Homo sapiens: one gene and its partner. The protein of the gene in region 2 interacts with the protein of the main gene of each other region in a pairwise test. Each region holds a gene or a part of one and is shown on either strand. Other genes may lie near its edges.

What was found. The genes of interacting proteins can lie anywhere in the genome.
Region 1: the proteins of MORN4 (region 2) and SEPTIN11 interact in binary tests that used the Homo sapiens proteins (3 or more experiments, as listed by UniProt).

The regions. Positions count from the first base shown.
Region 1 is NC_000004.12:76,952,713-76,956,463, reverse strand, and holds part of SEPTIN11 (septin-11), read right to left. Parts: intron 1-3,751. UniProt on the Homo sapiens protein: Filament-forming cytoskeletal GTPase. May play a role in cytokinesis. May play a role in the cytoarchitecture of neurons, including dendritic arborization and dendritic spines, and in GABAergic synaptic connectivity.
Region 2 is NC_000010.11:97,626,809-97,630,559, forward strand, and holds part of MORN4 (MORN repeat-containing protein 4), read right to left. Parts: intron 1-3,751. UniProt on the Homo sapiens protein: Plays a role in promoting axonal degeneration following neuronal injury by toxic insult or trauma.

The DNA of each region.
Region 1 (3,751 bases), on a different chromosome or scaffold from region 2:
TTTGTTACCGCAACATAATTTAGCTTAACTGACTGAATCAGATGGGAGGTCTGTATGCATGTTGGTCTAAAAGCCTTTGGTTCCAAAGCCTAGCTCTCCCACAAATTTGCTGTAGCAGATTAACTGACAACTTCTTCCTGTCTCATTTTCCTTCTCTATATTACTTCTCAGGTATTTTGTGAGTATAAGGTGAGATAATTGTCTTGACAGTAATTTGAATTGAATAAATTTGAAAATCAAGATGCTGAACAAGCTTCCCGTGCACAGAAGTTTTTGGTCAAGCCTTTTGCCCTCCAACAGCAGGTCAGAGTAAGTTTAATGAGTACCTTAATGAGATTCACAAAATTTATACTGGTATGAAGACAGTACTCAAAGAGATGAGATAACTAAAACAGCATGAAGTCTTAAGTAAACCCTGGCTTTTAACAGACTCTTCTCCTGTTTTCATAAAATCCAATGAGTTTTTAATTTCCTTTTTGGAGAACACTGATTGCCACTTGAAGTCCAAGGTGGAAAGAGTCCTACCATCTTCCCCCCCAGCCCCACCACACTCTTCAGGACTCAGTTGCTTAGGTCTAAGAAAATAATAACTTCTAGTTCTGAATCCTGAGGAAAGGCTCAATGCATAAAACTGGGCAGAGGAAGATCTAGCATTGTCGTTGTCATATGTTGTCACTGGACTCTCCTTCTCTGTGTCCTCTGTCAGTCTTCATTTCCTCTATTCTTTAAGGGTTCAATTTGGGCATGAAAGGAATCAACTCCCCTGATCGTTTCTCAACTCTCCTATTGAATCCTGAAGAATTAGTAGTCTGCAGATTTTCTTTGTCTTCCTTCAACCAATTTCAAGGATCTGAGATATCTTAAGTTATGGGCAAAGGGTGGATGGAATATAAAGCATTTAAAGAGCTACACAGTAAATACATGCCTATAAAGAATGCACTGCACAACTGAGTCTCTTCCCACCTCCTCAGCCTCTTGTCTGTCCACTCTCCCTACCCAACCCTAAGGCTGACGTTCCTGCTACATTGGATTTCTTAAGAGTCTCTCCCTCACTTCCAGAGCTTGGCACATGCTGTTTCCTGGGCTTGGAACACTTCCACAACCACCTCCCCATCTCCCTTTCCTTGCTAAATCCTATTGCTTACTCAGCCTATAGAGAGATTTCATGAGAGCAGCAAAGACTGCAGTCAAGTACTCACCAACATAATTTCAGCACCTGCATATAGAAGGTACACAAGAAATGTCTGATAAAACAGGTGGGTTGGAAAGGCAAGAATGAGTACTGATGTGTTAGGGTGTTGAGGATTATTTTGTTTTTCAATCTCTAACCTATCCACATTATTGTGCCTCAACTTCTATAAGAGAAAAAAAATCAATTCTTCCCAAAGGAATGTTATTATCAAAAACAAGTAGGTAAATTTTAATGTTATGCTATATATATTTTCATTTCCTTTTTGTACAATAAAAATGCAAAAAAAAATAAATAAATAAATAAAAAAGAAATCACACACAGACAAGAACAAACAAAGCTCCCACTTGTCAGAAAAATGGTCCTTTTAGAATATGGTCTCTTTCCCACCTCACCACCTCAGCCTACCCCTCTCTCAATGTTTCACACTCCATCCTACCCAGTCACAGTTCAGCAGGTGGGCAGAATGTGTCCACAGAACTGGACTTCCTGTGCCATTTGGCTTGAGCGATGTGCTCACACTCATTGGCGTCGATCCTAAAAAGAGGTGGCTCTGGTGCCTTGGCTTTGTCATATCAGGGAACAGACTCCTGATTTCTATCTCAGGTCAAGCCTGGAACAATGTGAATTTCATTTTAGATCGCCCAGCAAATTCCTTTTAGAAGTCTGTCTCTATTACCTTAGCCCAAGTATTGTTTTTATGTTCAACAGCTGCTGCATTGATGGGCTGCCAGCAGGCATGAGTGGGTCAGGGGAAGTATTGTTATTTGAGAGTTTTCTGTCAATCCAGATTTTTAAAAAGGGGGCGGGGGAGGTTATCAATTATATTGTAAAGTAGATCTCCTTGGAAAAAAGTATAGAAGCTTTAGATGTGTTGGGTTTCATTTAAATAATGGTTCAGCTTTGCTAACCCCATTTGAGACAGGTCTAGCTAAGACTATGAAAGATGGATCCCAATAAAATGATAAAATCCAAGAGCAGCGTCTATCCCCAACCAAATTTAGAGTCCTATAAAGAGAAACACAGGCACAGAAAACTCTGTGGGCTGCGCCACAGTCTAAATCCGATGATCATGATCAGTGTGACATCATCATTGGGTAGAATATAAACACTTGGTCTGCTGGCAATCAATCAAGTAGGCCATCCAAATCAAGGAAACAGCAGAGTCCCACAATCATTTGTTCCTTTTGCAGACATAGGATGGCCCATGCCCAAACACTAAGCATCCACTTCCTTCATTTTAAGAGTATTATTCAAATGGTCACACAGGACTCATTCAGGCACACAGTTTGGTTTCTAGGTGGCAGTTTATACAAGATGGGTTATGTCTGCTCAAAAAAGTGGTGAAATAGACTAAACACCTAAGAACTATTATATCAGGATAGTGGGTTATGGGCAGTTTTGTTCTTTTAATCAATTCCTTGGGTCTCCTTTTCACTGTAATGTAGACACATCATTTTTAAAGATGATAATTTAAAAGATAAATTAATCTATAACTTTCGAAAGATTTTAAAAGGAGAGATTATTGTACCTCAGAAACTTCTTGCATTCCTTAATAACTGCTTATAGAGCCTCAGTATGTATAATTTATATCACTGACTAAAAAGTTCTAATTTTTGAAAACTGACCTGAGATGACAGTCCCTTTATTGTTTAGGTGGCCCTCCCCTGGACCTTTCTTGGCTCCATTCATGTTTCTCCAGGCACACCGACCACAGCCATCCATCTGGGGCCACATTTTCAAGTCACAAAAATGGCAATTTTATAACAAGGGAAAGTAACATTTTATTGGCAGTACTCCTCCACTTCCCACACTCCCTGCCCTCATCTTTAAGAATTGCCTATAATTATCCCCAGACAGATATGATCCTTCACCTGAATCATATTTGCTGAGTCAGCAATAGGCATATAATTCCTTTTCTCCCTAAATGATTTACACATTTACACTGAAGTCTGTCACTTTAATACACCAAATCTCTCAAACAATAAAGCTCCTGGTAAGAAGAAAACTTGTCCACTGCTATATCCCCAACACCTAGAACAAGTTCCTGACACATAGCAGGTGCTTAATAAATGGTGTTAAATGAGCAAATGGAAACTTGGTTTTCCATTTCCTTCAGCTCAACAGATAAAACAGCAATTAAGTGCATTTCTTGAAGGATATCATAGGGAAATCTCCACCACCAGTGAAGTTTAAACACATATTTTTTGTTAGGGATAAAGTAAGAAATATTTCTGCACTGGGGAGCAGGCTAACCCAAATGACCTCTAACGTTCCTTTCAACTCCTAGAGTTTTTAAACTGATGAACACCACAGCTTAGGAGAGGCCATCAGCTACATAAAGCCTGATTCCCAAGTAGAGTAAATTGCCATGTTCTGTTTAAAATAAAGATAATAGCTGCCCCGGGATTTGGACGCAAAAATGCTAATTCATCCAAAATGCAGACACATCCCTTGGGAGTAAAATGTTCTTGCTAATCATCAGTTATACTAGGCAAACAGCAGATGTGCTTCAGGGTCTTCTTAGGGCTAAGCCCAAAAACCATCAGTGGGGAAATGGAG
Region 2 (3,751 bases):
GTGCAATGGTGCAGTCTCAGCTCACTGTAACCTCTGCCTCCCAGGTTCAAGCGATTCTCTTGCCCCAGCCTCCCAAGTAGCTGGGATTACAGGCCCCTGCCACCACGCCCAGCTAATTTTGTATTTTCAGTAGAGACAGGGTTTTACCATGTTGGCCAGGCTGGTCTTGAACTCCTGACCTCAGGTGATCCTCCCGCCTTGGCCTCCCAAAGTGCTGGGATTACAGGCATGAGTCACTGTGCCCGGCCTGATTTTTGTTTGTTTGTTTGTTTAATGGAGACTGGTGCTGGTGACTTTGCTGAGTAGCTTCAGCAGAGGGACCTGAACACCTTTTTTTTTTTGTTTTTTGTTTTTTGAGACACTCTCACTCTGTCACCCAGGTGGAAGTGCAGTGGCTCGATCTCAGCTCACTGCAACCTTCGTCTCCTGGGTTCAAGCAATTCTCGTGCTTCAGCCTCCTGAGTAGCTGGCATTACAGGTGTGTGCCACCACGCCTAGCTACTTTTTGTATTTTTAGCAGAGACAGGGTTTCACCATGTTGGCCAGGCTGGTCTTGAACTCCTGGCCTCATGTGATCTGCCCACCTCGGCCTCCCAAAGTGCTAGATTACAGGCGTGAGCTACCGCGCCCAGCCAGAACATAATGATTTTTGATACAGACACCAAAAGCCCAGAAATGGTCTAATGTGAAAACAGCTAGGCCTGACCAGAGCAGGGTTCAATGACATCTTCTACGCCCTGGCTCTGTCCCAGCCATGAGGACAGACGAGTTATAAGAATCCCTGTGCTCTCACCCAAATAAGAGAAAAGATTCATTTCTCGCCTAAATGAAGGGCAACCTTGTGGAGACTCTTCTAGAGATATTTGGGGGCCACTCCCATAGGACTTTCTCCCTTCTTCAGTTATCAGTCAAGCATTCCATTTCCAGTATCTCTCACACAGAAGATATCCGAGGCAAGGACCATTATCTTCTTGTAGTAAACTCCCTCCAAACCTCTGGGAGCTATTTTCTGAGACGTGATGCTGGTACTTGCCATGTCATCTCTGTCCTATCAATGTCCCACAAGGTCAGCATCCAATTTCAGGCTCACAAGCCTCTTATCACCAGCCCAGCATCAGAGTGTGCTGGGGTAGAGGCCAACATGACTCCATTGCAAATATAACATTAATGAGAGCATGAGAAGTAGTTTTCCATCAGAATAGCAGAAGAAAACGCTTTCCAGTACAGACGGGCATTTTGATCAGGCAATCCTCAGCTCTTCCCAGAACTAAGTTACAGCACTAAAAGTCAGCTTATGGTTGAAGTTTCATTCCTTCAAAACACATCAGTTAGAATCTGAAGGGCTGTATCTTCCACTAAATCTTATAATTAAACAACCATTCCAAAACCTAAACACAAAATCACTATTTATACAAAAAGATTATAAGAGCATTTCCTTTAGATGTCTGGCAGCAGTTAACCAACTTGTTTTCACTCAAAATTTGGAAGGAGTTATTGCAGTGGGATTTGAGGAGTCATATTGACTACACAGGGACTCAGGGAAAGTACTGCCTTGTATTTATTTACTTTTTCTCAAGGCTACGTGAAACTTCCAAAGAGTGGCATTCTACCTTGTTCCAGAAGGAACAGTATAAGATTGCTGAAAGAAGGGAACATTTCTCCAGTTTGAGGGTTATTTACGGACAAAGTACTAGTTTTCAAGTGGTACACCTAACCACTTTTTTTCTTTCTTTTTTTTTTTTTGAGACACAGTCTCACTGTGTCACACAGGCTGAAGTCTAATGGCATGATCTTGGCTCACTGCAACCTCCGCCTCCCAGGCTCAAGAGATTCTCGTGCCTCAGCCTCCTGAGTAGCTGGGATTACAGGCGTGCCAGCACGGCCAGCTAATTTTCATATTTTTAGTAGAGATGGGGTTTCACTATGTTGGCCAGGCTGGTCTCAAACTTCTGGCCTCATGTGATCTGCCTGCCTTGGACTCCCAAAGTGCTGGGATTATAGGCATGAGCCACCACGCCCAGCCCCTAACCACTTTTTTAGTATGCTGTTAGCTCTTGGGGATTATACCCTAAATATTTTAAGGAAGCCAATGAAACTGAAAAGGTTACCTTCTTATTACCAAATGTGGCGGACTGTATTTCCAAGATGTTTGCAACAGTATCTTCTGTCTTACATGTTTGTCTACAATTTGATCTGGCCATTGATCCATTAAAAGGTGAAATCTACCTCCCCTCCCTTGAATCTGAGTAGGCTTGTGACTGCTTGGACCAAAAGAACACAATGAAAATGATGGTGTGGGCCGGGCGTGGTGGCTCATGCCTGTAATCCTAGCATTTTGGGAGGCCGAGGCGGACGGATCACCTGAGGTCGGAAGTTCAAGACCAGCCTGACCAACATGGAGAAACCCCATCTCTACTAAAAATACAAAATTAGCTGGGTGTGGTGGCCCATGCCTGTAATCCCAGCTACTTGGGAGGCTGAGGCAGGAGAATTGCTTAACCCAGGAGGCGGAGGTTGAAGTGAGCCAAGATCGCGCCATTGCACTCCAGCCTGGGCAACAAGAGTGAAACTCTGTCTCAAAAGAAAATGGTGGTGTGTTCTGAGGTTAGATCATAAAAGGTGATGCAACTTCCATCTTGTCACTGATACACTCACACTTGGAGACCCGAGCCACCACATAAAAAGCCTGACTACACAGAGGCTAACACTGAAAGCCAAGCCACACAGAAAAGCCATATATTGGTGTTCCAGTTGGCTGCCCTTACCTTTGAATCATCCTATCCCACGTACCAGGCATCAGTGAAGGAGCCTTCAGATGATTCCAGCCCTCAGCCATTGAGCCTGCATTCCATCCCATATCAGGGAGCAGAGAGAGGCCTCCCCATGGTGCCAGGTCCAAATTCCCTCACCCACAGAATCCATGAGCATCATATGGGTGTTTTTTTTTTGTTTGTTTGTTTTGTTTTTTGAGACAGAGTCTCGCTTTGTCACGCTGGGTGGAGTACAGTGGTGTGATCTCGGCTCACTGCAAGCTCCGCCTCCCGGGTTCAAGCAATTCTCCTGCCTTAGCTTCCTGAGTAGCTGGGACTACAGGTGCTCGCCACCACGCCCAGCTAATTTTTTTTTTTTTTTTTTTGAGACGGAGTCTTGCTGTCTCCCAGGCTGGAGTTCAGTGGCACGATCTCAGCTTACTGCAAGCTCTGCCTCCCAGGTTCTCGCCATTCTCCTGCCTCAGCCTCCCCAGTAGCTGGGACTACAGGCGCCCGCCACCATGCCCAGCTAATTTTTTTTTGTATTTTTAGTGGAGACGGGGTTTCACCATGTTAGCCAGGATGGTCTCGATCTCCTGACCTTGTGATCCGCCTGCCTCAGCCTCCCGAAGTGCTGGGATTACAGGCATGAGCCACTGTGCCCGGCCCCGGCTAATTTTTTGTATTTTTAGTAGAGATGAGGTTTCACTGTGTTAGCCAGGATGGTCTTGATCTCCTGATCTCATGATCCGCCCTCCTCAACCTCCCAAAGTGCTGGGATTACAGGCATGAGCCACCGCGCCTGGCCACAGTATGGGTGTTTTAAGCTGCTAAATTCTGGGGTACTTTGTTATACAGCAATAATAACTGGAATACCATGTTTCAACCTAACCCTCCCACCATCCTCTCCCATTGGTTTTCAACAGTACATACTACAAACTTCCATTCCATTTTGACTTAGGCACATATAGCAAATTCCCTTCAGCAAATGCTTGCCAAAA